Regions from separate parts of the Homo sapiens genome. Here region 1 is linked to region 2. The links come from fine-mapping of genetic effects on gene expression. A gene starts in region 2. The other region holds a variant in brackets. All regions are shown on one strand. Distances are from middle to middle. Region 1 overlaps CSNK1A1 (casein kinase 1 alpha 1). Region 2 holds the start of CSNK1A1 (casein kinase 1 alpha 1).

What was found. PIP is the estimated chance that this variant, and not a neighbour inherited with it, causes the effect.
Region 1: its variant is the best candidate, but not a certain one, in a credible set for the expression of CSNK1A1 in whole blood (INTERVAL, PIP 0.69).

What each region holds. Positions count from the first base shown.
Region 1 is chr5:149,516,176-149,531,858 of GRCh38, forward strand. It overlaps CSNK1A1 (casein kinase 1 alpha 1), which reads right to left. Exons shown (of 10, transcript NM_001892.6): 3 at 8,870-8,996; 4 at 4,115-4,213. Among named protein-coding and RNA genes, the nearest start is that of CSNK1A1, 27 kb to the right of the region's middle. RefSeq lists an enhancer at 7,297-7,466. The variant A/T (reference allele first, on the strand shown) is at 8,354.
Region 2 is chr5:149,543,611-149,559,293 of GRCh38, forward strand. CSNK1A1 (casein kinase 1 alpha 1) reads right to left here and starts at 7,829. Exons shown (of 10, transcript NM_001892.6): 1 at 7,232-7,829; 2 at 6,465-6,571. The coding sequence starts at 7,354. It also overlaps the pseudogene RPL29P14 and a transcript of ARHGEF37 not described here. RefSeq lists enhancers at 4,422-4,957, 5,891-7,090, 5,958-6,097, 6,118-6,337, 7,337-7,396 and 5 more.

The DNA of each region.
Region 1 (15,683 bases), 27 kb before region 2:
CGGGCATGGTGGCGCATACCTGTAATCCCAGCTATTCGGGAGGCTGAGACAGAATTGCTTGAACCTGGGAGGTGGAAGTTGCAGTGGGCCAAGATCGCACCACTGCACTCTACACTCCTGCCTGGGCAACAGAGTGAAACCCCGTCTCAAAACAAAACAAAAAAACCCCCCAAAAAAAACAAAAAATAAAACCAAAAACCAAAAAAAGTAGGGGGATAATTCCATAATTCCATTCAATAGAGGCACATTTTCTTCAAAATCACTGTGGCTAATCTTAGTGTTTAGTACTTGCAGCATTTTTTTTTTTTTCCTAACCAGGGGTCATAATTTCCCTTGCCCTTCTAAAACATTCACAAGGTCACTTTACTAAAAACCTAGCTAACCTGTATGTACAAAATCTAAACAATGTAATACAACTTTCTTTGTAAATTATTAAATGATGCTACGAAATGTAAGCAAAATATGTGAATGGGTAAGTAAAAATGAGGCACTATAAAACTAGTTTTATTCTTATAATATGCCTAATGATCCACCATCTACTGTCTTCCCCCCACCCCTTATCTAACTAGTCACAATACTTGGTACTTCTTTGCCTGAATAAAAATAACTCTGAATTTCTGAAACCTTTTTTAATAGCTGGAGGTGGTTCCTGGAATAAAGCTGGGCAGTATGGAAAAGGGTTAAATGATTATCCAGATGATACATGTGGATAATTTAAGGTATTACAAAGCATGTTTTTTGTTTTTTGATTATTCATGCCAATACTTCCTCTTCACTGTATACTAAACTGAATGATTAAGATTCATTTGCTCAGGAGCATGAACATTTATGAACTTAAATTTTGTGATAAAAAAGCTATTTAACTTCAACAAAAGTGTAACAAAATATGAAGAGTTCTACTTACAAATTTAGAAAATTAGTAGGGTGTTTATCCAGCCTGCCAAAAACTAAATTTAATATATTTCAATGTATTACTAATGGTAATCTACCATATAACTTGATAAGTGCTTAAGCTATGTTATTGTTATATTGTTAAGAATGCAGTATCTTCTAGTTCCAGAGCCTATAATGCTCTGTAAATATCCATTTGCTAGAAGTTGAGAATACAGACTGAGGAAATAAGTTCTAGAAACACTAGATCTGAAATCTGATCTACACTTACCTGAAGTTCCTTAGGGAAGGGGAAGAGAGGTGAGGTAGAATATATTCATTATACAGCACTAATGAACTGAATTTAAATATATTTCGTGCATTAAGTTGTGTAACTCCAAATAAATTTTTAAAAACTAACGATCTATCTCAAGTTTACTATTAGGTAAACAATTTCAGTACTAGACCAACATCATTTCCTCATATGTATGTTAGAGAGCTAAACATAATATCCTATTTTCATTTAGCTTTTTTCTAAACTTTATAAGTTTTAAGCAAAAGCCACAAAGAAATATCTTAGTAATGTTATGTTTGCCAAGTATGTCTGAATAATGCCAACGTAAGAGGTGCTTGAGCAAGATCTACATTCTCCAGAATTAAAACAAAACAAAAATCATCAAAATAAAACAATAAAAAAGAAAAGCACATGAATTTGGGATTGAGGTTGGAATAGGAGACAGTTTCAGACCTGGTTTAATCCTGAGAAAGATGGGTCCTGAGAAGTACTAACAGTCATGCTTCTTTTCCTCTTCCCCACTGGAGATTCTAAACACTAAACAGACAATAGAGGGTGGCAGTGCATCAAACAGTATTGCTTACATTGCAACAATGGCCGGCGCAGACAGGCAACACCGAGGCATTAGAGAAAGAACAGGGTAGCCAAATGCCATCCTTCTTCCACCAAGCACTGTAGCTTCTCAGTTTTCCAAATAAGAATCACATGCTCAAGAACATTTGAATTCTGGAAATTACTCAGGTTTTTAATGCCACTATTTTGTGTCACTGCCTGAAACAGGGATAGCAATGGTGACATTTGGCTCTTTTATATTTTTAATCAAAAATGGGGAATTTAGATCTGCAATCTTTGGTACCACAATCTGCCCTTCCCCCCCAAAAAAATATTGTACGGGGGAAAAAAATCTTCAGTAAGGAAGAGGTAGAAGGCATTTAGTCACCTTAAAATTTATTTTCGTAAGCATGCAGGGCTGATTACTGGAAGAGATGAGCAAATTCACTAAGATTGGAGTGGCCACTCCTAAATATCAAATTCAGAACAATTTTCCAAATAAGAAATTTAACTTTAAAAATTGTCCTCAAAAGCCCCCCAAAACCTTTTTTTCCCCATGAATAGAAAACTACTGGAACAAGCTGACCAAAGAATCCAGTCTCATACAACTGGCATTTTTCAAACTACAATACAGAAAACACTAAAAATCAACTACATAAACAAAACACTAATCTAAAATGTTCAAGAGCAACATTTAGCATTTGAATCTTAGTTGAGTAAAACACTTTGCTTCTTCCCCATGGCCTCTCTAAAACAGTGTTAAGCAGCAAGCAGCTCCACAAAATTATTTTTAATATCTCAAGGAGAAAAGGAGACCTAAACCTCCTAAAAAGGTTTTCACCACTAGATAACTTACACTTCCTTAAGACAACTATGCGATTAACAAGCTATTCTTAAGGGGGTTGTGGGGGAGGGGGGGAAGGCAAAGTGATATCTAGGTCATCATTTAAATTTAAGGCAAAAACCACGTACTGCAATGTCAACGATGCAGAATAGGAATCACATGGTGATAATGGGTTTTTAGGGGGTAAGAAAACAGGAAGGAGAGGGCTGGGAAATGGCCAAGAAGATTGGAGTCAAATGGACAAAACTGCCCCAAAACTTAAGAACAGTAATTTTTTTTTCAATTGAATTACCAGGCTTTACAGTAATAAAAACCTGGATACTTCAGAGAAAAGCTATAAAATATTTTTTAATGCAACTTGGGAATGACAAGATAAGTTATGTGTATATTTAAACACCTTTCATTATTTAAAGCTCAACAAAAAAATTTAATTTCCTAAAACCTAATCAGACCAACATCAGTATCTCACATTGACAAATAACACCAATTCTAATGGTAATGTCTCCCAGTTGGCATTCATACAGGCAAACAAAGGTAAACATTTATAGCTAGACCTAAAAACACCAAACATTTCCTAATAGTTTAGTAAAACAAATGGGCATCTTCCTTCCAAAAACAAAACAAAAAAGCCACAAAAAAACAAAAAAAGCCCCCAAGTTGTCCTGAAGTTGAGAATTTCTATCAGATAGATCATCAGATCACAACATGCTTAGTGCATTGCCAATGCTGCCTGTCTGCCCGAGCTCAACATAGTATCGATAAAGAAAGCAATTCACTCAGTAAGACTAATCATTACAGAAAAAAAGTCAACACAATTAGTTTCTAACTGCAATCATGCGCCACTAGCTAAAACCCAATCACCCCATAAGTTGAACCACTCTCAGAGACCCCAAATGAACACTAGTTTTGTTGTATGAATGTTCATTTCACTTGTCTACATTTTCCTTTAAAGGGAGAGGGAGGGGTGGAGAACTCACCCAATTTGGCACCCAAGTAAAAAACTGTCAACTACTTTTGAAGCAGGCCCAAAAGTTACCCTTTTAAATACACAAATTCAAGGACTGAAGAATTCTCATTATCAACCATGCTCAGTCAGCAAATGTTAACACCATGGTGACAGATAAGTCAGTGTTCCCACACTGGCACAAGCACATATATTATAAAAACCCACACTTCAGAGCCAAAGGTTAAAATCTGGTTTTAAGCATTCAGGAAGAAAAGAATATGGGGGTTTTTGCTATTTTTGTGAATGAAAAATAGATACAACTGTTCAACAGTTAAATAACTTAGACAACTACAGTTCATTATACAGCCCTTAGAATTTTATATTTCCATATAGGTAACTAACCTCGGTTGGGTAAGTTGAAGATAATTTATTTCAAGTTACTAAGTTAATGGAGTTAGCTGATTATCCTCATAGCACAATCTTTTAAAGCAACTGTCAACAGCAAATTCAACTTACTATGGCTTTTTAAAAGATTGAAAAGTTTACCAAAGCAATTCTTGTCGAAACTTTACTCTTTGTTCTTTCATGCAAAGAGCATTTGACTAACCTTATTACAGTGACGCCCAATACCCATTAGGAAGTTATCTGGTTTAATGTCTCTGTGTATAAAATTCTTTGTATGCACATATTCAATTCTACTGATCATCTGGAAAAAAAAGAAGGGAGAGATAATTGAGTTAAGTAGTAAATGAAAATCAACACATTTCTTAAGTATTTCAGTATCTCAATTATTTAGAGTTCACAAAGACAGCGCTAAAGAAAATGAAATGGAAAGGACAACTAAGTTCTCCATTTATTTCTAGGTTAATGGATATCTAAGCATATACCTGCTGTGTCCTTTGGCTTTACCTTCTAGTATTAATAATTAAAACCATGGCAGGGTCTAACCCCATAGGAAGACTTGGTGTTTGTGATTTTCAAATAATAAAAGGAATACCTGTATAATAGTTTCAGTTGCTACAATAAAGGAAATAAAATAAAAACTTTCCACACTCAATCCTAGGCCTTCTAAAGTAACCTGTTAAAATGGCCTTGTATTACCCAGACCTAATTCCATGTTATAAGATATACATATGCACACAAACAGATACACATATACTTGGGAGTGGAGGATGTTGACAGATTGGCAGATTAAGCTATAAGTAGTTGTTATAATTCTTATATAATCTCATTCCAAAAGTTAAATATTAAACATGCCATTCTTAAAAGCTTTCCTTAATTTCTTGGAAATTATGCAAAGTCAAACGCTATAGCTCAAATATCCTTTTTAATGGCTACAAATATTCTGTGGTAGAGATGTTATGTCTTCCCCAACTCACAGTATTCTCACATTGTTTTCCACTTTTTCCTACTATAAATAATGCCATTAATAGACATGTATCTTTACCCACTAGTGCTTTTATTTCTATGGGCTTCAAATCCCATATAATTATGGGGAGTTGCTGAGTTGAAGGGTGTATTTTTCATTTTGATAGATAATATCACACTGCCTTCCACAATAGGCTGTAACAATTTGGATTTACTCTTCTTTTTTTTTTTTTTTTTTTGAGACAGGGTCTCACTGTCACCTAGGCTGAAGTGCAGTGAAGCAACCATAACTCACTGCTGCCTCAACCTTCCAGGCTCCAGTGATCCTCACACTTCACCCTCTGGAGTAGCTGAAACTATAAGGTGCATGCCACTACACCTGGCTAATTTTTTTGTGTCAGCTAATTTTTAATTTTTGGTAGAGACGGGATATCGTTATGTTGCCCAGCTGCTCTTGAACTCCTGGGTTCAGGAGATCCTCCTGCCTCGACCTCCCAATGTGGTAGGATTACAGGTGTGAACCACCATGCCCGGCCTCGATTTAGAAGTAATCCTTCCATGAGGATTTTTTTTTTTTTTTGAGACAGAGTCTCACTCACTCTGCTGCCCAGGCTGGAGTGCAGTGGTGCAATTTTGGCTCACTGCAACCTCTGCCTCCTGGGTTCAAGCGATTCTCTTGCCTCAGCCTCCCGAGTAGTTGGGATTACAGGCACCCGCCACATGCCTGGGTACTTTTTTTTATTTTTAGTAGAGACAGGGTTTCACCATGTTGGTTTCCAGCTCCTGGCCTAAAATGATCCACCTGCCTCGGCCTCCCAAAGAGCTGGGATTACAGGCGTGAGCCACTGCGCCTGGCCCTTCTATGAGGATTTACTCTTCTATGTACTGTCAAGCTCCACTCTTTGCCTATTTTTCTTTCGGCCTATTGTCTTCTTGTTAGCTTTTAGGAGTTCTCGTCATAAAACAAACAATCTTTTATCTGTCATTATGTAAACAAATTTAAATTATTTTTTATTTTGACTGCTTATGGCATTTCTTGTATACAATAGAAGTTCTGTGTTTTTTTGTTTTTTTTGAGACAGAGTCTCACTTTGTCACCCTGGCTGGGGTGCAGTGACGAGATCACGGCTCACAGCAGCTTCAACTTCCGGGGCTCAAGTGATCCTCTCAGCTCAGCCCCCTGAGAAGCTGGAACTACGGACATGCGCGTTACCATGCCCAGCTAATTTTTGTATTTTTTGTGGAAAGGGGGGTATCGTTATGTTGCCCAGGCTGCTCTCGAACTCCTGAGCTCAAGTGATCCTCCTGCTTCTGCCTCCCAAAGTGCTGGGATTGCTGGCATGAGCCATCACACCCAGCCTCTATCTTTTCTATAAGACACTTACTTAGAAGTTGTATTTTTAAATAGATTACATATCCAAAGACTGCCAACATTATCTTTCTGTCCATATGTTCTTGCTCTACCCAGTAGTATCTGTTAGGATTCTATTTTTTATTTGTCCCCATTTTCCCCAGAGCTTTTATTATCATGAATACACAGATTCTAAATTGTACTCTTCTACCTTGACAAATGTCTTCTGAAGCCAAACTAGTAATCTCTGGCTTGAACAACTTACACCTGTTACCTGTCAACCACAGAGCAAGACTTAGGTGTCAACTACCTTAAATGAAAGCTTTCTTGTATCTCCCTTCCTCAGAATTATATTTTTTCACATTTGTTACCCGTGTACCCAACAGAGACTTCTACAACTCTACAACAAGGATGGAACATCTTATTTTTCCATCTTTCTTTATTAGACTCTAAGTTTCTTTCTAGAGGGAAGAGACTAATTCTTATTTTTTTGCCACCCCAACCCCCAGCACTAAGTACAGTGGTAGGCTCTCAATACATGTTCAATGTATGGATGCTTACGTGTTACTGAACAAACAAAAACATAAGCCATAACTCTTTTATTAGGATTCACTCATATATGTTAGTTAAAACATATTAAAGGCTTTTTTTTTTTTTGAGACAGAGTCTCGTTCTATCCCCCAGGCTGGAGTGCAGTGGTGCGATCTCGGCTCACTGCAATCTCCACCTCCTGGGTTCATGTGATTCTCATGCCTCAGCCTCCCGGGTAGCTGGGATTACAGGTGTCAGCCACCACGCCTGGCTAATTTTTGTACTTTTAGTAGAGATGGGTTTCACTATGTTGGCCAGGCTGGTCTCGAACTCCTGACCTCAGGTGATTTACCGGCCTTGGCCTCTCAAAAGTGCTGGGACTGTAGGCATGAGCCACCAAACCCAGCCCACATTAAAGGCTGTTAACATAAAAGAGATGGGGTCTTTGCTCTATTGCTCAGGCTGGAGTGCAGTGGCATTATTATAGCTCACTGTAGCCTGGAACTCCTGGGCTCAAGAGATCCTCGTGTCTTGGTCTCCCAAAGTGCTGGATTACAGGCGTGAGCCAGTGTGCCGCGCCACTTTTAACCTTTTAATGCTTGAGTTTGTTTTGTGCCACAAATATCACAATTTGCTCACATTTGCTTGAGCCACTGAGTACTTTTAAGGTTAAGAAGCTTGGGGAGTATCAGGTGCTGATTACAGAAAATGGGCACTACTTTCTAATCCTTGGAATTATAGACAAAGTTTTTTCATTGATCTATAATAGTTGTATATATTTATGGGGTATGTGTGATATTTTGTTACATGTATACAATGTGTAATTATCAAATCAGGGTAGTTGGGATATCCATTACTTCAAACATTTATATTTTGTGTTAGGAACATTACAATTCTACTCTTCTAGCTATTTTGAAATAAACGATAAGCTATTGTTAACTATAATTTCCCTACTATACTATGTAATACTAGAACTTATTCCTCCTAACTGTATTTTTGTGCCCATTAACCTACTTCTCTTCATCCCTCTGAATTTACAAACTTACTAAAATTCCACCTCAAATACCATGTCTGTTTATCTCATTTTACTTTATGACATTTACTTGAAAGAAGCTCACAGTGATGCTTTGGGTAATACATAAATAATAGTATTAAAAGGTAAGTGATAAAGTAAATAAAGGTAAGTGATAAAACAAATAACCTGTGTTCTCCTTTCCCTTTTCCTCATTTTATTTTCTTCTGTTATTTTCCCTCTTCCTTTTTATGTGATAGGCAAATCTGGACTAGAGAGCTGTCACAAACCCTCCATTATATTTTTAAATGTCATTCTCTTCATAGTATTTTTATAAGCACACTGAGTTTAACTTAAAGCATTTCCAGCATTTTCCTGCCCTTAAAGGTAACAAATACTGATCAAAACAAAAAATTATACATGTCTTGATATTTACCAATCATTACCTTAATGTATTATCTTTTCCCTTAAGGTTTGTTCCTTACTCATCTTTCTCATTTCTTAAGATCGAAATATCCAAACTTTGGCTGTAAAAACCATTTAATCTAACCTACAGCCAATGCATCAATCTAATTCATGACATC[A/T]CCAAAATTTCCTAGGTCTTAAGTAACACAAATGGTTGAGAATCCATTACTCCAAGCAGCATCTACTTGGTCAAAAAATTCTTCCTTATATTACTTCAGGACCTTTTTATCCTCAAAAATATAGCTTTTCTAAGAGTCCCACACATAATACATAATATTCAATTTTGCTTAATTTAACCAAAATGTCAATAAACATTTATCAACAATTATATGCATACATACACTCTAAACTCTCCAAACAAAATCTTACAATAACCTGCTACATATGACACTAAAACTTCATCTGAAGGAGCAGATTGAAAACTACTAGTCTACAGATGAGTAAGAAACCAAGATAATTCCAGGTTTTGTCTTATTCCCATAGGAAAATATCTACAAGTCACATTATTATTTTTTTTCTGCCTATGCTAAGGTTAAATAGTGATGCACAGGATTTTAATACTCTGATTTATGAATAATGAAATTCCAGTCAACAGTACTAGTCTCAGTTTATATTCTAATCAAAATTTCACATACCTGGTCAGCTAACATAAGTACAGTTTTCATTGTGAACCTTCTTGAACAGAAATTGAAGAGGTCTTCGAGGCTAGGTCCCAGAAGATCCATGACTAGTACATTGTAGTCTTTTTCCTGACCATACCACCTAACGAAACAAAAGGAGAAGAGAGGATATTACAAAAAGCTATTACTTAATATCATCAACCCTAAGAATAATATAGTTTTCTTTCACTGACTAGGTATTATATAAGGCGAATGTTCCCCTACTCAGAAGACAAACCCACTAATTAACTACAAGGCCCAAAGACAAAACAAGGGTAATGAGACTTTTTTTTTTCCCTGTCATGCAACTCCATTCTCCTATATAGATAGGACATGCATAGTAGCCTTAACACTCCTGTTACCAGGGCAGCTGAATTTTATACCCACTGGCCACTGATTCCTATGGCCTTTACCAAATTCCTTAATCTCACCTGAATTTACTTTGTAACTGAAGAAATGAAGATGACTCTATCAGTCATTCCAAAATGTTTCAGAAAGCAAAGATTTCTTTTATCTGAACTTCGATTCCAGTTCCTACCAAATTGCATTTAATCAATAATTACTTGTCCTTATTCAAAAAGGAGTCACATTTTTCCTTGGCTTCAGATCACAGAAAATAACCCATATAACACAAGGTAATGACATTTATTTGCTTTTAACTGGAATCATGTTTTAATTATCCTGGGCTGTATTACTGTATACAATGTGTCCCTAATAAGAAGTATCAACTGCCAATTTCATTTATCCCAAGGACTGAAAATCACTGCAATAAATTATTTCAAATTTTGATGCCTATGATTCTGGTAAGAGTACTTTCCTTAAAATAAGCACTACCACTTTTCTTTCAAACTTTTCTAGATATTAAATTCTGCTAAGAAAATCAGGTGATACTTAAAATTTTGTTTAAAAAGTTATTTTAAAGCTTAAACTGCAGTCATTTCTTTGTTAACTCCAATAAGAACCAATCCCAAAATTTACCATATCTGGAAAGCTTATGTTTTAAAAATATTCAAAAGGGGAGAACAGGCTTTTCTTCCTTTCCCTTCCTTCCTCCTTATTTATCTATTTATTTATTTATTCATTTATTTTTAGACAAGGTCTCGCTCTGTTGCCAGGCTGGGGTGCAGTGGCAAATCACAACTCCTGCAGCCTTTGACCTTCTGGTCTCAAGCAATCCTCCTATTTCAGCTTCCCAAGTAGCTGGGACCACAGGCGTGCCATCATGCCCAGCTAAATTTTAAAAAAGTTTTTGGTAGAGACATGGTCTTTCAAATTTCTTGTAAAGGCAGAGTCTCCCTACGTTGCCCAGGCTAGTCTCTAACTTCTGGACTCAAGCGATCCTCCTGCCTCAGCCTCCCAAAGCACTGGGATTACAAGTTGAACCACTGTACCTCACCAGCTTTTTAAGAAAACTAAAATCTGTGTCAAAATTATAACAAGTATCAGTCAAGTAGGAAACTGTTTAGTGCCATTTCCTGCTTTGCTGATAAATGCCAATGATTCAAGAAAATCAATATTAAAACTAGAGTATGAGGATTTAATCTTTTAAGAATATTTTTCTAGAAAATGCAAAGATAACTATACAGATGTGCTACTCTTGTGGCTCTTCTTTAAGAAAAGAGTCTATTCTAACTAGTGGTCCTGGGCACCCATTAACCCTTGATGGCATCTACCAAAACTGCAGAAATTTCAGGCATAGCACCTGAGAAAGGGGGGGGAGCCTCAAATCAGTCAGCTTTAATTTCAGATCTATTCAGATAGGTCTCATAGTCAGGTATAATAAATATGCTCCCTAGAATCTTATGTTGAGAGTAAGAGATCCTAAGAGGATTATAAGCCAAAAAGTTCAGTTCCTTCCTACGACTTTTGCTTCAGTTGTTCTTGAGAACTACTTCCCAAACCTGACACATGGATAACTGCCAAGCACACAAAATCAAATCCATTTCCACATCCTCTTTGCAGAAAAAGATAACCCAGTAAGGGAAAAGTTCTGCTTAACTTTCTAGAGGTCTTGCCCACTAGGCTAGGAAACAAATGTGTCAACGTGACAGCAAAAGAGCCATTTTTTTTTTTTTGAGACACAGTCTCTTGCTCTGTCCGACAGGCTCGAGTGCAGTGGTGCGATCTTGGCTCACTGCAACCTCTGCCTCCCAGGTTCAAGTGCTTCTCATGCCTCAGCCTCCCAAGTAGCTGGGATTATAGGCGCCTGCCACCACGCCCAGCTAATTTTTGTATTTTTAGTAGTGACGGCGTTTCACAATGTTGGCCAGGCTGGTCTCGAATTCCTGACCTCAGCTGATCCACCTCTTGGCCTCCCAAAGTCCTGGGATTACAGGTTTGAGCCACCACACCCGGCCAGAAGAGCCAGTTTTGTCCTTATTGCTTAAAACAGCATACTAAAGCTGCTGTTATTTTCCCTCTTCCACTCTTTATTCTCCCTATGGGAATTCAACACCTTTCACATTCGCTGAAACATTTACTTGAAAGAAGCTCACAGTGATGCTTTGGGTAATACATAAATAACAGTATTAAAAGGTAAGTGATAAAGCAAATAAGCTGGGTTCTCCTTTCCCTTTTCCTCATTTTATTTTCTTTTGTTATTTTCCCTCTTCCTTTTTATGTGATAGGCAAATCTGGACTAGAGATCTGTCACGAACCTACCATTACAAACGTTCAACACTTGTTTAATATAAATATAATTTACCTAGGCTTTTAAGAAAACGAGAACACCAAATCCAGAAAGAGCTAAGGAAGTAAGAAGGCGCAAAAAGTCAAATAGGCAAAAGGGAAGGCATAAATCAACTCTTATTTATAAGACCAAGTCTCAGCTCTAGACAGGTTTCCACTGATGGCTCAGATGTAAAACTACAAAAAACAAGCAAATGTTATAACCATCCATCTAAGCCCAAACACAAACCTGAAATGTAAAAGGCACAAATTCAGACTTTATATTTTCATGCAATTAACATGATTTCATAAAGAAATCATCTGCAAAGTAAGCCTCTAACAAAATCACCTGCATGTAAGCCTCTAACTCCCTTAATAGTTAGAAACTGGGAAGAATTAGATGAATTGAGAAGCACACTTAAAACACACACACATTATTGGGCATTCTTCATCCTTGCTTAAATTTATGAACACAAGACATATTCACTATTCTCAAAGTCAGGAGGATTAAATACTTCCTTGAAAATAGCTAAAAAAAAATAAGCGTCTCAAAGGCATTTTACCTTGTGGAGCAACCATGCAGTTCTAAAACAGCTAGGACTTTCTTTTCTATGGACTGGTACTATAACTCCTTAAACCTAAGAGACAGGAGTTTACATCTTTCACACTTCCTTTGGTCTCAAGGAATATATAGCTTAATTCTCTAAAGCTAGAACGTCACACCCTCCATCTGTGCTCTTCCATCTGGACTAACTCATTCAGACATTATCACACACAGATTCAGAACCAGAAATGGTCTTCTGCTTATTCCAATCTTACTTATTCTTAGTTTCTACCTTCACCTCCATGCTTCCCACGTCTATTCTGAGAGCTTTTCTCTACCTTCAATCCCAACCTTAAAACCCAGATGCCAAAGAAATCTTCCTAATGTCACCTATCCCACATTGGTCTCCTATTTCCTAGAATTCCCAAAGCCATTAACTATTGCTTGTGTCCACAGTCTTAACCCCTTGACAATACTCATCTACTGTAACTTTGGTGTTTGTCTCTATACCTGGTAGGATAGAGCTTACAGCTTTATTTTTATTTGAATAGCCTTTTCACAGAACCTGAGTCATGAACAAGCACTAACCCGATTCTCTGAGGCCATTTAAGTTTATAGTCTGAAACACCAACACAAAAACCTCACTCATTTACTTTCTAGGCCTTCAAACTAGAAACACAGGTCTTACCTTTAGACATTTTTAAGTACAAGACGTGTTGCTACTAAGTGTACAGTGGTAAAGTGATGTGCATATTGCAGGTACTCAGGTAATTATGAGACTAAAAAAAGTATTCCAGTTGATTTGGACCTTATTCTTCCTAAGTTACGAAACATTAAAAAAAATCAAGTAATTTAATGGGTGAAAGTGAAAATAATAATTTTAAAAAGATAAAATGTTCGGGGATCTCATTTTCCATTTGTTTCAAATCTATACCTTTAGACTTCAGTGTTACCTAAAACTAGGCTGAAGAATGAGTTCATAATTTACACAACCATTATTACTTACTTACAGCATAAAAAAAGTATCTAAGGTCTGAAGATAATGCCAAGAGAAGGCAAGGTCTATCTCTCTGCTCTTATGTCCTTTCCTCTAAACGCATATCCAAATTAAATCCAATTTAAAAATTAAGACATACACAAAAAGCACAAATGTAAGACAATACATGCAAAAGTCAATGAGGCTGACAAAAAATGCTAACATGATTCACACAAAAGATCAATGAGAACTAAATCTGTCTAAAGAGGTATTAGGAAAATAGTCTGCTACCAGTCAGATCCTGAAGGATGAACAGTGTTTTGATAAGTAAGGCAGAAAAGGGCTTACCAGGCAGGGGCAAACCATTTTGGGGCATGGGCTGTCATAAAGGGAAGAGTCAAGGTGGCAGATAGATTGAAGCTGCAGTATAGGTTCTTCAGTGCAAGGCTTATGAGCTTTACATGCTGTAAATAATTGGGTGAACTATTACTACAGTTTGTGGCTGAGACATAATTAAAATCAGTAATTATTAGCCTTGGCATCAGTATACAATATGGAAATGGAGGACCAGGGGAAGGAATGACAATGACATGGTTACCAATTAGGAAGTGTTATACTATAGCCGGAGATTTCAAGCTAGGGGTTTGCTTTTTTCTGAAAAATGTCTTCATGAAAATGGGAGTATTTGAGAAAAAAAATACATATTTTTCATATAAAAATATTTAAGTATTACTATGAGACCCAGAATATTCCAGAATAAATCAGTGTAATTATTGTAATATGCACTTTACCCAAATATATGTTAGTTCCATCACCATGACCAGGACAAAATAACAGTAAAAAAAAAAATTTAATGTAGATCTTCCCCTTCAGACTATTAACTTAATTAGGGGCAATCATTATATTTGTCTTGTTCACAATCTGTATTCCCAGCATACACAAGAGATGCTCAAAACATTTGCTGAGTAAAATAATGAAAACTCATATTAGAAGCTGTAACAGTGTAGGGAGTGCTTGATTTGGCAGATAAGGAAAACAAAACAAGAAATGCAAAAACACTCCCTGCACTCCAAGTGAAGACATCAGGAAGCATCTATTTATCCCTAGTTCAAATAAGCCAAATAATTATAAAAGTTAAAAAGTCGTTTGCCAATCTTTCGGTTATTAATGTCAGAGTCTTCAGTGAACAACTAAAAAGTATCAACACTGAATCAGTGCTATAATATATCCAATTTTAATAGCACCTACAAGATATCCTGAAGATACTGTCTCTCAAACTTAGTCTCTTGCCAGCCCATCATTATCCAACCTTTATGCTCCTTTTTAATGGGAGCAGAAAAGGAATTTGGCCTAGCAAGATCTTGCTGAACCGTAAGAACTAACTCAAATTGTCTCTTTAGGATACTACTGCTAACAGTTCCAGCTACTCAGGCCAGGCGCGGTGGCTCACGCCTGTAATCCCAGCACTCTGGGAAGCCGAGGCGGGCGGATCATGAGGCCAGGAGTTCGAGACCAGTCTGACCAATATGGTGAAACCCCGTCTCTACTAAAAATACAAAAATTAGCTGGGCATGGTGGTGGGCGCCTATAGTCCCACCTACTCAGGAGGCTGAGACAGGAGAATTGCTTGAACCCAGGCAGCAGAGGTTGCCATGAGCTGAGATCTCGCCATTGCACTCCAGCCTGGATGACAAAGCGAGACTCTGTCTCAAAAAAAAAAAAAGAACACATAAACAAAAAAAAAAAGTTTCAGCTACTCTGTTCCCTTTTCTCTAAAATCCTTTCAATTTTCCTATACATTCATATTTGTATATGCCATTCTTAACAGCTATTTGCCATTCATTATACACAGATGTATTCTCAAAACCAGATACCTCTTCTCCCCATACATCTCTTCTCAGAATGTTTTAAATGCATAAAATACAAGGCATTATAAAGAAAATCAATTATAGCGAAATTGAACTAGCATAAAATTACTTCTAAACAATCAATTTTGGGGCCAGGCACAGTGGCTCATGCCTGTAATCCCAGCACTTTGGGAGGCCAAGGAGGGCGGATCACCTGAGGTCGGCAATTCGAGACCAGCCTAACCAACATGGAGAAATCCCATCTCTAATAAAAATACAAAATTAACATGCCTGTAATCCAGCTACTTGGAAGGCTGAGGCAGGAAAATTGCTTGAACCCGGGAGGCCGAGGTTGCAGTGAGCCGAGATCACGCTATTGCACTCCTGCCTGGGCAACAAGAACAAAACTCTGTCTCAAAAAAAAAAGAAAGAAAGAAAAGAAAAAGAAAAAAAATCAATTTTGAGCCAGGTGCAGTGGCTCAAGCCTGTAATCCCAGCACTTTGGGAGGCTGAGGTGGGTGGATCGCTGGAGGTCAGGAGTTCGAGACCAGCCTAGCCAACATGGCAAAACCCTGTCTCTACTAAAAATACAAAAAAAAAAAAAACAAAAAACAAAAAATTAGCCGCACATGGTGGTGGGGACCTGTAATCCCAGCTACTCAGGAGGCAGACGCTGCAGTGGGCCGAGCTTATGCCACTGCACTCAAGCCTGGGTGACAGCAAGACTCCATCTCAAAAAAAAAAAAAAGGAATTTG
Region 2 (15,683 bases):
AGTGCCAAAGATAAGATTAAGCTGCTTTTAAAAGTGAAGAGTAAGGATTAACTAGTGCTTTATAAATACGTTCTAAAACATTTGACCTTCAGACACAGAGGGCAAAAATAGTGATTAAAACACACTAGGCAGCTGGGAGAGGTGGTATTCATCTGCAGTCCTAGCTACTCAGGAGGCTAAGAGGCAGGAGGATCATTTGAGTCCAGGAGTTTGAGGCTGTAGTGTGCTATTATCATACTTCTGAATAGCCACTGCACTCCGCCCGGGTGACAGAGCAAGAACCTGCCGCTAAAAATAAAAATAATAAAAGATGAAAGAAAAATAGGAAAAACAAGAAAGGAAGGCAAGTAGTAGACACAATATCAAACTGCTGGAATGCTTTTTTTCTAGCTACTATCCTTTGAAAATAGGTCTTAAAATTCCAGGACTAAAAGTCCTTAGGATCAATGAGGCCAGTGACACTTTTAAGTAGGGAACCCTTGTTCAAACAAAACCCTACCCAAAAGCTCAGTATGCAAAGGCAAATGGAAATGAGTATTTAGCTGGCAAAAGAAGGGTAGGCAGCCCTAAATCTTTCTATTCAGCACTCTCCTTCCCATTAGAACAATCCTTTTTTTATGTTCTAAATGAGGAAACAGATGGGCTTACACACATTAAGGAACTGACTGACTGTAGATGACCCAGTCAATATCACATGGCAGATCTACAGCTCAAACCTCCAAAACCTATCTAGATAAAGAATTTTTCGGTATGTCATAGTTGTTTCTTGGGTCATTGCACGGTGGCTGATGCCTATAATCCCAGCGCTTTGGGAGGCTGAGGCAGGAGAAGTACTTGAGCTCAGGAATGCAAGACCAGTCTGGGCAATATAGCAAGAGCCCATCTATATAAAAAAAATTTAAAAAAATTTTTAAATTGTTCCTTTGGAGAACTTAATTCAATTTAGAATGGAACACACAAAAAAAGGTTTTAACAGAAACTCAATACAGCTGACCCTTGAACAAAAGGGGCTTGAAATGCACAGGTCCACTTGTACACAGGTTTTTTTCTGCCTCTGCTACCCAAACAAGATCAACCCCTCTTCTTCCTCCTCAGCCCAAAGTGAGGATGATGAGGGTAAAGAGCTTTATATATATATATATATATATATATATAGTTATTGACCAATCATGTTATTGGTGAAGCTTCCAGTGAACAGTAGGCTAGTAGTAGTTAAGCTTTTGGGGAGTCAAGTTATACTTGGGGCCAGGTGCAGTGGTCCATGCCTGTAATCCCAGCACTTTGGCGGGCCGAGGTGGGTGGATCATCTGAGGTCAGGAGTTTGAGACTAGCCTGGCCATCACTGTGAAACCCCGTCTCTACTAAAAATACAAAAATTAGCTGGGTGTGGCGGCGCGCCTGTAATCCCATGAACCTGGGAGGCAGAGGTTGCAGTGAGCCAAGATCACACCATTGCACTCCAGCCTGGGTGACAGAGCAAGACTCCATCTCAAAAAAAAAAAAAAAGTTACACTTGGATTCCTGACTGTGGGGCACAGTGGGAGTGGGCTGGGGTTCAGTGCCCCTAACCCCAGCACTGTTCAAGGGTCAACTGTAATTTTAAGTGAGCTCTCACATATTAATTGACAAGGTCCAAGAATTTTCTTTCTTTTTTTTTCCCCTGCCTCAGGTTTATTTGTACTAATAGCACAGGAGGACCCCAGCCCCATAAAGACGGCAGCCCAGGGGGGTTGCATCAGTCCTTCTGTCCTCACGTTGGCAGACAGAGATACCTACTCCGAAGCCTTTGTAGGGGCCTGAGAGCCTTTGGGAGGAGCCTGAGCTGGAACTGAAGCTGGAGCTGCAGCCTGGGCCTTGGTTGATCCTTGGCCTTTGGCCCACACAGTCTGAGCCCCTTGGCAATGCGGACACAAGCACACTTCCCAAGCTTGGGGTGGACAATGTAGGCAAGTCAATCGAGTTCGCAGCTGACACCCTTTGGGATCTTGGGCTTAACCTCCTTGGGCTTTACGAGGGCCCTGCTAGCCTCAGCAAGTGCACTCATTGCCTTGGCATTGTTGGCCTGCATCTTCTTTAGGCCCTTCTTGTGCTTCTTGGCAAAGTGCATGTTCCTCAGGAACCTGGAGCCCACCATTTCTGTGCCATTTTCAGGACTGGTTGTGTGTGGTGTGGTTCGTGGACTTGGCCATGTCTGTACCTTAAGCCGCGGCTCTCCAAGTGCCTAGAACCGGAAGCTTCATTTCTTAAAATATCAAGAAAATGGATGCCATTCTCTTATCCTTGCTTTTTTTTTTTTGATACGGAGCCTCATTCTGTCGCCCAGGCTGGAGTGCAGTGGCACGATCTTGGCTCACTGCAACCTCCGCCTCCCATGTTCAAGCAATTCTCCTGCCTCAGCCTCCTGAGTAGCTGGCACTACAGGCGCACGCCACCACACCAGGCTAATTTTTTTTTTTTTTGTATTTTAGTAGAGACAGGGTTTCACCTGTCTCTACTACCCAGGCTGGTCTCCAACTCCTGGGCTCAGGCAATCTGCCCACCTCGGCCTCCCAAAGTGCTGGGATTACAGGCGTGAGCCATGGCGCCCGGCTTATCCTTGCTCTTTACTCAGGATGCTATGCTTCTTAACAATAGGTCTCTCAAATTACACAGGAAGGACCTGATTCAGCAGGTCATCTACGCAGGCCAGGTAATTTTCAGTCTCTGTTGTAAGATATACCAAAGTATCTTAAAGAAAATCCTGGCTGGGTGCGGTGGCTCATGCCTGTAATCCAAGCACTTTGAGAGGCCGAGGCGAGCAGATCACGAGGTCAAGAGATGGAGACCATCCTGGCCAAAATGGTAAAGCCCCATCTCTATTAAAAATACAAAAATTAGCTGGGCGTGGCAGCACGTGCCTGTAGTCCCAGCTACTCAGGAGGCTAAGGCAGGAGAATTGCTTGAACCCAGGAGGTGGAGGCTGCAGTGAGCCAAGACTGTACCACTGCACTCCAGCCTGGTAACAGAGTGAGACTCCATGTCAAAAAAAAAAAAAGCAAATCCTATAGGGAATTTTGTAACAGAAAACATAGGGAAGGGATTGAACAAATTTGTATATGAAGGATAAAGGCAGCAAAATCTAAATTTTTTAAATTAGTGACAATACTTCTAAAACAATAGATAACACATAACTTTTATCTAGCTAACACTAAATAGTCAACTTAATTCAATACTTTCCGAGTAAATATTTATTAAGTATGTACCATGTATAGGTGATACAGAAATAGTGGGGAACAAACTGAGGGGGATGGGAAGATGCTGCTACCCAAATAAAGAATGTTTACATAAATCTTTATCCTTTTTGCTTCAGTGGAAACAGTTTTTTTTTTACATTTCACTTTAAAACCAATGAACCACTTTTGTTTCCATGTACCTGACCCTACCACTCCTAAAGCAAATTTACCCTTTCCACACTCTCATCCAATTACTGTGTTCTCCTTTAGAGACTACACCCAGAAGCCACACTCTATTCTTGGATGCCTTACCAAACCAGTTCACCAAGCTTTCTTCCTTAGAGCCAGATCCTGAAATCCCATCTCTCAGGAAGCCTTAACTTGAAAGTCAGGTTAATCTGTTTAGCCTCACCCACAGACAGCTTATAACTACCATAACTCTCTCTGCACTCACCACCTTATAATAGGCACCTATTACTATAATTCTGCTCAGAAGTTAATTTATTCATGTGCTTATTCAGTACATTACTCATTGCCCTTATGGGTCTGTATCAGGTCTTAAATAAAAGCTACCAGATAAAAGGACATGTACTGTACTTGGGTTTAGCACTGAAAAATGACAATGCTTAATGCTTTTTGAAACTGATTTCAAATACATTAAATTTAACCTGATTTGTGAAATTTATAAAATCTCCCAACATAGATGAATCTCAAAAACATTATGTTAAGTGAAAAGTGCCAGACACAAATGACCTCATATCGTATGATTCCATTTATATGAAATTCTAGGAAAAACTATAGTAATGGAAAGCAAATCAGGGGTGAGGGGCCTTATTTTCCCACATAGTAGGTTTTTTTTTTAAAGGCAAGAATGATTTAAAAACTTCAAATCTATATCATCTCAGATTTAATCTTCACCTCATAAGATAAATTTGCAACTTTCTTCCAAATGATTTACTTGCTCATTTACAACCAATAGCACATTTTATCACTCAATTCTCCATTAAAACTGTAAATCAGCATTGGAACTTTGTTTTTTTTTTTGTTGTGTTTTTTTGTGTTTTTTTGAGATGGCGTCTCGCTCTGTCACCAGGCTGGAGTGCAGTGGCGCCATCTCAGCTTACTGCAACCTCCGACTCCCGGGTTCAAGCTATTCTCCTGCTTCAGCCTCCCGAGTAGCTGGGATTACAGGCACGTGCCACCATGCTCAGCTAATTTTTGTATTTTTAGTAGAGACGAGGTTTCACCACGTTGGCCAGGCTGGTGTTGAACTCCTGACTTAAAGTAACCTGCCTGCCTTGGCCTCCCAAAGTGCTTGGATTACAGGCGTGAGCCACCACGCCTGGCTGGAACTCTTTTTAAGGACAGTTTTATTTGAGTTGTTTCCATGTAAAGACTATGCAACCCAGTCCTTAATTCAAGACATGAAAAATACAAACTGGAATAGAAAAAGGGGCTAACAGGCTGGGCCCGGTGGCTCACGCCTATAATCCCAGCACTTTGGGAGGCTGAGGCAGGTGGATCACCTGAGGTCAGGAGGTGGAGACCAGCCTGGCCAACACGGCAAAACCTCAGCTCTACTAAAAATACAAAAATTAGCCAGGCGTAGTAGTGCAGCTCTGCAATTCCAGCTACTTGGGAGGCTGAGGCAGGAGGATCACTTGAACCTGGGAGGCGGAGGCTGCAGTTAGCCAAGGTTGCGCCACTGCACTCTAGCCTGGGCAACAGAGTAAGGCTCCGTTTCAAAAGAAAAAAAAGCCGGGCACAGTGGCTCATGCCTGTAATCCCAGCACTTTGGGAGGCCGAGGCAGGCAGATCACCTGAGGTCAGGAGTTCGAGCCCAGCCTGGCCAACGTGGTGAAACTAAAATACAAAAATTAGCTAGGCGTGGTGGCGGGCGCCTGTAATCCCAGCTACTCAGGAGGCTGAGGCACGAGAATCACTTGAACCCGGGAGGCAGAGGTTGCAGTGAGCCAAGATCGTGCCATTCATTGCACTCCAGCCTGGACCACAAGAGCGAAAACTCCGTCTTAAAGAAGAGGCTCCAGTAAACAGTAAGTACCATTCTTACCTATTCTGAATAATTTTGCAAATGTTATTTTAGATTATTGCTGGAAAATAGCTGGGCTTTAAACTATATTTTAGTCTCCATTCCATGAAGAGGATCTTTAATCCCAAAAGTTAAAACATTAAAACCCTCCAAAGTAAAGTTAACCATTTGACAGAACAATGTCTATCTCGTCATCTTTTATCCTCGTTACTGCTATTTGCACTCACCAATATTCCACACCAACAAAGGCCCCAATTTCTCTGATGTGAAGATTTACTGACAAACTCAACAGGTTAAAATTACTTATCAAAGTGTGGCTAAGTGATTAAGATTTTTTTAAATACAACTGATATGAGTAAATTTTAACATAGTTGGTGCTGCTCAAACTGCCTTTGCCACTACCTATACAAATTTAGTCCCGACTGAAACGTGCCAAATATGACCATTCACGAAAAGAAAGAGTAATTAACACTTTTAAAAGAACTACGAAGGATTTTACATAGTGTAATTCAACAATTTCGTGTCACATCTGCTGCAGAGATCACAAACACTGTCACTATGCCATCTCCTTCCTCGAACCTCCACACCGCCTCCTGCAGCTTTATTCTTGGCTTTTCAAAGGTTTAATCCACTCGGGGCTGCTAAAGGAGGAATCAAGGAAGCATAATTTGTGAACTCAAGCTGAGAAAAGGGCAGGAATATGGGGTTGAGTCACGTCGTTCCGCCATTTTCTAAGCGGAGGAGGAAGACATGTTGGAACAAAAACACAACAAAAGAGCAGCCATTTCCCAAGCCAGCTCCAATAGCAACTCGAACTGACACTGCCGGGTCGCTTCGGCACCTTCAAATCCACTTCACTGGACAAACCTAAGTACATCAGAAGTGCCGCCGTAAAAAAGGCAGCAGCCAACCCTTCCGCGTAGGGATCAAAGATGACCTGCACGCATAACTGCAAATGAAAGCCTCGGGAAGAGTGAGAATGACGGAAGCGAAATGGAGCAGTGTAATACAATGAAATAAGTTGGCAAACTGAAATTTACTCAGTAATTGAGATGACTGACTTACAGGAAACCACCAGCTATAGGGAACCCAGGTAACTAAAACACCAAGACCCGGATTCAGCTGGTCTCATTACCTGCCTCTACCCACTTCCCCATTCCGTGCTTCCCTCAGCGGATCGCCTATATGCACCGGGTTCTTACCGTATGTGGGGGATGCCAACCCCACCTTGAAGAATCTTATAGAGCTTGCTCTCGTACAGCAACTGGGGATGCCTGGCCTTCTGAGATTCTAGCTTCACTGCCACTTCCTGCAGGGGAAAGAGGGGATGATGGCATCAACATCCCTACGGATTCAATGTCACTTAGGAAAGGAGGGAGACATTAGCAAAACTCCAAGTCGCGACTACAAGAAGAAGTGAAAAGCTGGAAAGAGAAAGCTCTCGGTAATTATAAAACGAGGCAACCAGCCTCAAAGGCCTCTTCAGGGGGTAGTGACGAAATCCGTACGTCCTCTAAAGTGCAGGAAAATGATTCATCCAGAAAAAAGAGGCAACCTCTGAACGTAGTGAGAGGTTTTTAAGGAACTAGGCGATCGGAAACTGTTCTAATTGGAACAAGAGGCCCAGTAGAATTAAGAATTAAAAAAAAAAAAACATGGGAATCACTGAAAGAGGATTTTGCCGTTTCCACCTTAAAAGACGGTTAAAAAAAAAAAAAGCTCGACTAAGGGACATTTATGGGACGTGTTTAACAAGGTGGGAAACTAGTTCCCCCAACCTTTCTATCGGGTTCTTGACCCTTTTAGGGAGACAGCGGACGAGGTTCGTAAGCCAGGAAAACTAGCTCCCTGGACTCCCTGGCGAGTGCGTGCGATGAGGAGAGGCCCGAGCACTTTGGGGGTGCACGGTGGTGGTGGGGGGAATGAGTAAAAGCGCAGCGTTATCGTGAACCCCACCCCAGATGATTACCTCGCCGTTGGTGATGTTGATCGCCAAATAGATGTCCCCGAAGGAGCCAGACCCGATCTTCCGTACCAGTTTATATTTCCCTCCGACAATGAATTCAGCCTTGGAGCCGCTGCTACTCGCCATCCTGAGAGACGAAGATGGAGGCTGGGGCCAAGCCCCGACACCTCTGGGAAGAGGACGGAGGCCTCGGGGCTCCTACACTAGGCAAGGCTACGGAGGAGGGCGGCAGGAAACGGAACACGGAGGCCTTTACCGGGGTTCGGGGCCCAGAATCAGCAGAGGGGAACCTGATCACCGCCGCTCAGTCAGGTTTCTTTTTGCCAGGCCGCAGTTTGTGAAGGGCTTCTCGGCGGTTACCAGGCTGGGCCACTTGTTTCTCGGCGGCCGCCGCTGCCTCGCTTGCGCGGCGACGTCGCGGGCTGGAAAAGGGGCGCGGTGAGCTAGGGCGGCGATACCGCTGCCACCACTGCCGCCGGCTCCGGCCCAGAGGGACCCCTGTCACTCCGCGGACGACGCCATCTTGTTACTCCAGCTCCAGCCAACACAAAATGCCCCCAGTCCCCGGGAGCCGCTTCTTCACGGCGCAGAGCACTCTGGGAAAGGGATCTCGGGCGCTCGCTCCGAAGGATCGGCAGCGAGAGGGCGGAACCGGATCCGTGAGAGTCGCGGCCCACGCTCCGAGCGTCACCCTGTCACCGCCCAGCTGCGCATGAGCGCTGCAACTCCTGCTGACTGCGCAGGCGTGCCGCGGCCTGTCCTCACCCCCGTCCCGGGCTCTCTTCCACTTCCGGTCGGCGGCGGCTCAGCAGGTGTTACCTGTTACTCGCCTCGGACCCGCCGGGTCTCTGGAAGGCTGAGTGGCCCCCCGGCCTTGATATTGGGAGGAGTCACCTTCATGTTTCGTGGCAGATGAAAGCTTAAGGCCTCCTTAGGAGTTGGGTATTGACCTGTGCTCTTTGAGGCGGTTTTTAACCTTTGATCTTTCTTCTGGCCGTTCCCCCGGACCGGCCTATTCCAACCCAGTTTCTGTTTGGAAAGAGGCTGTCGCCTCTGGTGGAGAGGAAGAGAAAAGCAGCCAGCGTCGAGGAATCTCTCAGGGCTCTCGGTTGTAGCAGAGCCTAGCTAATTACCCTTCATAATTAGAATTGTCCTATCTACTACGGAGTGTTATAGACCCTCTTTCCACAGGAGGGGAAGAAAGAAAGAAGCCGGAATCCCCCTGCCATCCTATGTCTTTGCATTATTGCCTCACTACCACATATGATCTTCAGAAGAAAACCTGGTATGTTGCTCATAATGAAGATTAAGGATAGATGGAATCAACAGAAAATTAATTTAACAAGAGTGAAAAAACTGTTATGTCCCCTCAACCCCACCAAAAAAAAAAAAAAAAAAAAAAAAAAGAATCGTATGTTGGTCTTGTTGAAAACCTCAGTATTAACCTGAACAGAGTAGAGGTAACTATTACAAAATTTAATTGACAACATTTAAAACTACACGGTAATTTTTTTCTTTTTTACAAAAAATCGATCAGAGAATCAAATTTTGACCACGTTTTGTTTTACAAAATTTGACCTGGGAAAATTGGGCTTAGTAATAATAATGTTCACGAAAGAAAACTCCATGGTTGATGCTATCATCTTAAGTCAGACCTCAGTCGTAAAAATTTAAGCTAAGCCTATCCTAAATAAAATTTAATTAAAATAGAAATGGGGGGCGGGCGCAGTGGCTCACGCCTGTAATCCCAGCACTTCGGGAGGCCGGGGCGGGCAGATCACTTGAGGTCAGTTGTTCGAGACCAGCCTGGCCAACATGATGAAACCCCGTATCTACTAAAAATACAAAAATTAGCCGGGTGTGATGGCGCACACTTGTAACCCCAGCTATTCGGGAGTCTGAGAATCGCTTGAACCCGGGAGGCGGAGGTTGCGGTGAGACTAGATCACGCCACTGTACTCCAGCCTGGGCAACAGAGAGACCCTGTCTCAAAAAAAAAATAATTAATTAAATAGAAATGGGAGAAAAATGTGAAGAATTTTAACTGCAACTTTGAAAGGTGGTCAAGTAATTAGTAATAGGGTTCATCTCGGAAGACAACTGAAGAGAGAGGGGAGGAGACTTCCCCTGAAGTTTAGCATGAAGTTTTTAAAGCCCAACCAACACTCAGGGTGCCCAACTCCCAAATCAGCACTGTTAGACATCATTCTCCTTTGGTGACTCTAAAGCATGTTTTGACTAAGTTAAAATCTGCTGTTAAATTCTGATATAAAATGCAGCCGGGCATGGTGGGCTCACACCTGTAATCCCAGCACTTTGGGAGGCCGAGGCGGCTGGATCACCTGAGGTCGGGAGTTCGAGACCATTCTGGCCAACGTGGTGAAACCCTGTCTCTACTAAAAATACAAAACTTAGCTGGGCATGGTAGCATGTGCCTTGTAGCTCCAGCTACTAGGGAGGCTGAGGCAGGAGAATCGCTTGAACCTGGGAGGCAGAGGTTACAGTGAGCCGAGATCGTGCCACTGCACTCCAGCCTGGAGACAGAGCGAGACTCCACTCCATCTAAAAAATTAATTAATTAATCAATTCTGGTCTTAAAAAAAAAAAAGCCAAGTTTAAGCATCTTGAGTTTTCCAGAGATCACTCCTTTTCTGCTAATTTTCTCACACACATCCAAAGTTTAATGGATTCCTCAGCTTGAGGAGTTCTCCATAAGGGGATGAGGTATACATTTAGACGGATATTTTGGTATTGTGATAAAAATGCTCAATGAAGCCGGGGGCAGGGTAAGGGTGGGCATGAAGTGGTCTAAATTAGTGATTCCCAAAGATCTGTGTATGGACAGGTGCAAGTGGCTAACAAAGTTTGCCATGAGGATGTGAGAAAAGTAAGCAATACATCTTTCATTTATTTATCTGATTTCACATTATATTTCATTCTGAGATTTAGTCTTTTCACATATGTGTCATTAAAATGCTCTTTTATAAAAAGGTGCCGATGGTAGATGGTTTTGGTTTTTAAAATATTCTTGCTCGGTTAAAAGTTGAGCCCGGGTGCAGTGGCTCACACCTGTAATCCTAGCACTTTGGGAGGCCAAGGAAGGGCAATCACCTGAGGTCAGGAGTTCGAGACCATCCTGGCCAACATGGTGAAACCCTGTCTCTACTAAAAACACAAAAATTAGCCGGGCGTGGTGGCGCATGCCTGTAATCCCAGCTACTTGGGAGGCTGAGGCATGAGAATCGCTTGAACTGGGGAGGTAGAGATTGCAGTGAGCCGAGATTGTGCCACTGCACTCCGGCCTGGGCAAGAGAGTGAGACTTTGTCTCAAAAAAAAAGTTGAAAGCTGCGTACGGTGGCTCATGCATGTAATCCCAACACTTTGGGAGGCCAAGGCAGGAGGATCATTTGACTCCAGGAGTTCCAGGCTGCTGTGAGCTATGATCAAACCACAGCATTCCAGCCTGAGCAACAGAGTGAGACCTTGTCTCAATAAATGAATGAATGAATGAATGAATGATAGGTACTTGTATGTCTAATCCTCCTCGCCTTTTTTTTAGAACTTGTGTAAGCCCATTAAATTCTACTGGTCTAAATGACTTCTGGAAACCCTTCTAACCCTGAGATTCTATAATTTTGTATATAAGGTATGAGTCCTCCTTTGTTTCCTGCCTGCTATAGTCACCATTCCAACACTGACAGTGCCCAGCAAAATGCACAAAAATGAGATGTGAGTGGGTCTAGCCTTTTCAAATGTGATTTTAGTTTCTTAAGATTTAAATTTATTGGATTTAAGAATGGCAAAATTGTTTTTTTTTTTTTTTACATAGAAAATGAAGTCCTCAGGTGTTGGCTATGACTCAGCCTTCTTCTTAAAGTCATGTATCATTTGCAGTAATTTTAGCCTAAAAGATTGAAGAATAACCTGTTTTTGGTGTTGCTGTTAAAGTCACAAATCATTCTGTACTTATTGAATCAGCAGCAGCTTTGGTGTAATGAAAGGAGTCTTTTAGGCCAGGCACGGTGGCTCACGCCTGTAATCCCAGCACTTTGGGAGGCCAAGGCAGGCGGATCACAAGGTCAGGAGTTCGAGACCAGCTGGCCAATATGGTGAAACCCCGTCTATACTAAAAAGTACAAAAATTAGCCGGGCGTGGTGGCAGGCGCCTGTAGTCCCAGCTACTCAGGAGGCTGAGGCAGGAGAATCGCTGGAACCCGAGAGGCGGAAGTTGCAGTGAGCTGAGATCGTGCCATTGCACTCCACCCTGGGCTACAGAGTGAGACTCTGTCTCAAAAAAAAAAAAAAAAAGAAAGAAAGAAAGGAGTCTTCAAAGAGCAATTTCTGGCTTCTAGATCAGATGAATTCACTAAAAATATCAAAAGTGTAGAATAAAAATAAAAATTTTAGACCTTGAGGGAAATACAGAGATCACCTAGTTCAATAATAATAATTGTATTTTTTAATGCTTTGCAATTTACTTATGAGTCAAAGTCTCACTCTGTCACCCAGGCTGGAGTACAATGGCACCACCATAGCTCACTATAGTCTAGACCTCCTGGGCTCAAGCAATCCCCCTGCCTCAAGCTTCCCCAGTAGCTAGGACTATAGGCAGGCACCACCATGCCTGGCTAATTTTTTTTTTTTTTTTAACTTTTTGTAGAAATAGTGTCTTGCCTTGTTGCCCAGGCTGGTCTTGAACTCCTGGACTCAAGTGATCCTGACGCCTCATCCTCCCAAAACGCTAGGATGACAGGCAAGAACCACTGTACCCAGCCTGCAATTTAGAGTACTTTCACACATATCATTTGTGCCCCAGTAAGACAAAGTGGCTTGCCCAAAATCATAGAGATCTTAGTGGCAGTGACAGGACTAGAGCCACAACTACTACCAAAAGAAAGAGAAAAAGGAAAGAGTAGAACACAAATTAGGACAATCATGTCCCAGGGATTACTTCTGTGTTCGTAGGGAATTCAAGATGAATTTTAAAACTTTTTTTTTTCTTGGCTGGGTGTGATGGCTCATGCCTATAATCCCTGCACTTTGGGAGGCTGAGATAGGAGGATCGCTTGAGGCCAGGAGTTCAAGACCAGCCTGAGCAACATAGACCACATCACTACAAAAATGTTTTAAAATAATAAAAACAAAAACCATTTTTTTAAGCCACAGTGTTTACTCAAGCAACGGTCACTGGTATCCAGAATGTGCTTTGAGTGAAATGATAGAGACAAGCACAAGAAGTCTAGATGGATGCTAAAAACAGAAGGGTAGCCTGCCAATCTCTAGAATTGTTTGGTGCAAGTAAATAGAAAAATGGAATGCCTTAGAAACGTCAGTGTCCCAAGTGTTGTTTATTTTATTTATTATTTATTTTTGAGATGGAGTCTCACTCTGTCGCCCAGGCTGGAGTACAGTGGCGCGATCTCAGCTCACTGCAACCTCCGCCTCCCGGGTGCAAGTGATTCTCCTGCCTCAGCCTCTTGAGTGGCTGGGATTACAGGCACATGCCACCATGCCCAGCTAGTTTTTGTATTTATTTATTTATTTATTTATTTATTTATTTATTTTGAGATGGAGTCTCGCTCTTGTTGTCCAACCTGGAGTGCAATGGTGCAATTTTGCCTCACTGCAACCTTCGCCTCCCAGGTTCGAGCGATTCTCCTGTCTCAGCCTCCCAAGTAGCTGGGATTACAGGCATGTGCCACCACACCCAGCTAATTTTGTATTTTTAGTAGAGACGGGGTTTCACCATGTTGACCAGGCTGGTTTCAAACCTCTGATCTCAGGTGATCCACCTGCCTCGGCCTCCCAAAGTGCTGGGATTACAGGTATGAGCCACTGCACCTGGCCGTAATTTTGTATTTTTAGTAGAGATGGAGTTTCTCCGTGTTGACCAGGCTGGTCTCAAACTCCTGACCTCAGATTATCCACCTGCTTCAGCCTCCCAAAATGCTCGGATTACAGGTGTGAGTCACCAGTGTCAGGTGTTGTTTAACTCTTACACAGTCCTGTGCATAATCAGCATCAGATAAGGGAATTCATGGAGTAATTGAAAACATGAAGACATTAGAAATGTGCAGTTGGGTCAGAGTGATAATCCATTCAGCCTGTTTTTCAGTCTTGGATAGTGATGCCATTTCTGTCCCTTTCTTTAATCAGTCCCTGTTCTCCCCCTCTGCATTGTCCATGGGGTTTTGTGAAAGTGGATTGCTGCATCTATGACAGTGTTTTGCGGTGGCTAGGTCTGTGCAAAAGTACCCCAAAGTCTGAGGAAGTTGGGATGCTGAAGGAAGAAGCTGACAAATACAGTATTTAAGAAAGAAACATTTAATAGGGACTTCGAACAGAAGCCATTGAGTTCAAGGAACAGAAACCAAGATGGTGGATACCCATGCCATTACGCCCGAGACCCAGGACTTATATACCACAGGGAAAGGAATGGTTCAGATATGACCTGTAGGACAATTGAAGTGGATAACATCAAAGTTGTTTGACCTAAGAGTAGGATTTACAGTAAATATCTGCTGTTACACAAGGAACATAGATAAACTGGGAATTTTCAAGGACTTCCTGGAACTGCAGTTAAGCCAAAATGGTGGCTTAGTTTCCAAGATGGAGTTGCTTTGTTTGTTTGTTTGTTTGTTTATTTATTTATTTATTTGGGACAGGGTCTCCTTCTGTTGCCCATGCTGGAGTGCAGTAGTGTGATCATGGCTCACTGCAGCGTTAAACTCCTAGGCTCAAGCAAGCCTCTGCCTTAGCCTCCCAAGTAAATGGGACCACAGGCATGTGCCACTGCACCTGGCCTAACAGGGAGTTGCTTTAGCCTCCCATCCAGGAGGAGTTGCTTTAGCTTCCACAGTTAGCAACTTCAAACCCATTTGAGACTGCATGTATTGCTTACTTTTTATGGCCTAATTAACCATACATTTATTTCAATTAATGTTATTTTTTGAATATATTTATTCTTTTGATTCATATAGCTTCTAGATTCTAAAGATTGGTAAGTTCTATATGTTTACCCAATAATTTTTTTTTTTTTTTTTTGAGACAGAGTCTCACTCTGTCGCCCAGGCTGGAGTGCAATGGCACGATCTTGGCCCACTGCAACCTCTGTCTCCTGGGTTCAAGCAATTCTCCTGCCTCTGCCTCCCAAGTAGCTGGGATTACAGGTGCCTGCCACCACGACTGGCTAATTATCATATTTTTAGTAGAGATGGGCAGAGACGGGGTTTTGCCATGTTAGGCTGGTCTCAAACTCCTGACCTCAGGTGATCCACCTGACTTGGCCTCCCAAAGTGCTGGGATTACAAGCATGAGCCACTGTGCTCGGCCCTTTTTTCTTCTTTCTTTCTTTTTTTACGTTCTTAGAAATAGAGACAGGGACTGACCGGGCACCATGGCTTACGCCATGCAATCCCAGCACTTTGGGAGGCTGAGGCGGGCGGATCACGAGGTCAGGAGTTCGAGACCAGCCTGACCAACATGGTGAAATCCTGTCTCTACTAAAAATACAAAAATTAGCTGGGCGTGGTGGCTTGCGCCTATAATCCCAGCTACTCAGGAGGCTGAGGCAGGAAAATGGCTTGAACCCAGGAGGCAAAGGTTGCAGTGAGCTGAGATTGTGCCACTGCACTCCAGCCTGGGCGACAGAGCGAGACTCAGTCCCCCTCTCACCAAAAAAATAAGAAAGAAAGAACTAGAGAAGGGGATCTCACCATATTGTTCTGACTGGTCTTGAATACCTGGGCTCAAGTGATCCTCCCTCCTCGGCCTCCTAAAGTGCTGGGATTACAGGCGTGAGCCACTGTGCCCAACCAGACAACCCAATGATCTTTAAAAAACCATATATATATGTGTGTGTGTGTGTGTGTGTGTGTGTGTGTGTGTGTGTGTGTGTGTATATATATTTTTATATGTATAAAATATTTACTGTTCCTTTCCTTATAAATGTGACATTGAAAAATTTCTAAAATTCAGATAAATCGGAAAAAAACAAAAATCTCTTAGAGGTAATCACCAAATGTTAACATTTTGCTGTATAAAATTCCAGCATTTTTCTATGCATATGTATATATGTGTATGTGTATCAGTATATCTGCATATCACACTACTGCATTCTAGCCCAGGCAACAGAGCGAGACCTTGTCCCAAAAAATATAAGTACGTATTTTATTTTTCATTTCTTAAAATTTGCAAAAACTGGCCAGGCACAGTGGCTCACGCCTGTAATCCCAGCACTTTGGGAGGCCGAGGTGGGCAGATCATGAGGTCAAGAGTTCGAGACCAGCCTGGCCAACGTGGTAAAACCCTATCTCTACCAAGAACACAAAAATTAGCCAGACATGGTGGCACATGCCTGTAATCCCAGCTACTCGGGTGGCTGAGGCAGGAGAATTGCTTGAACCCAGGAGGCAGAGGTTGTAGTGAGCCAAGATCACACCACTGCACTCCAGC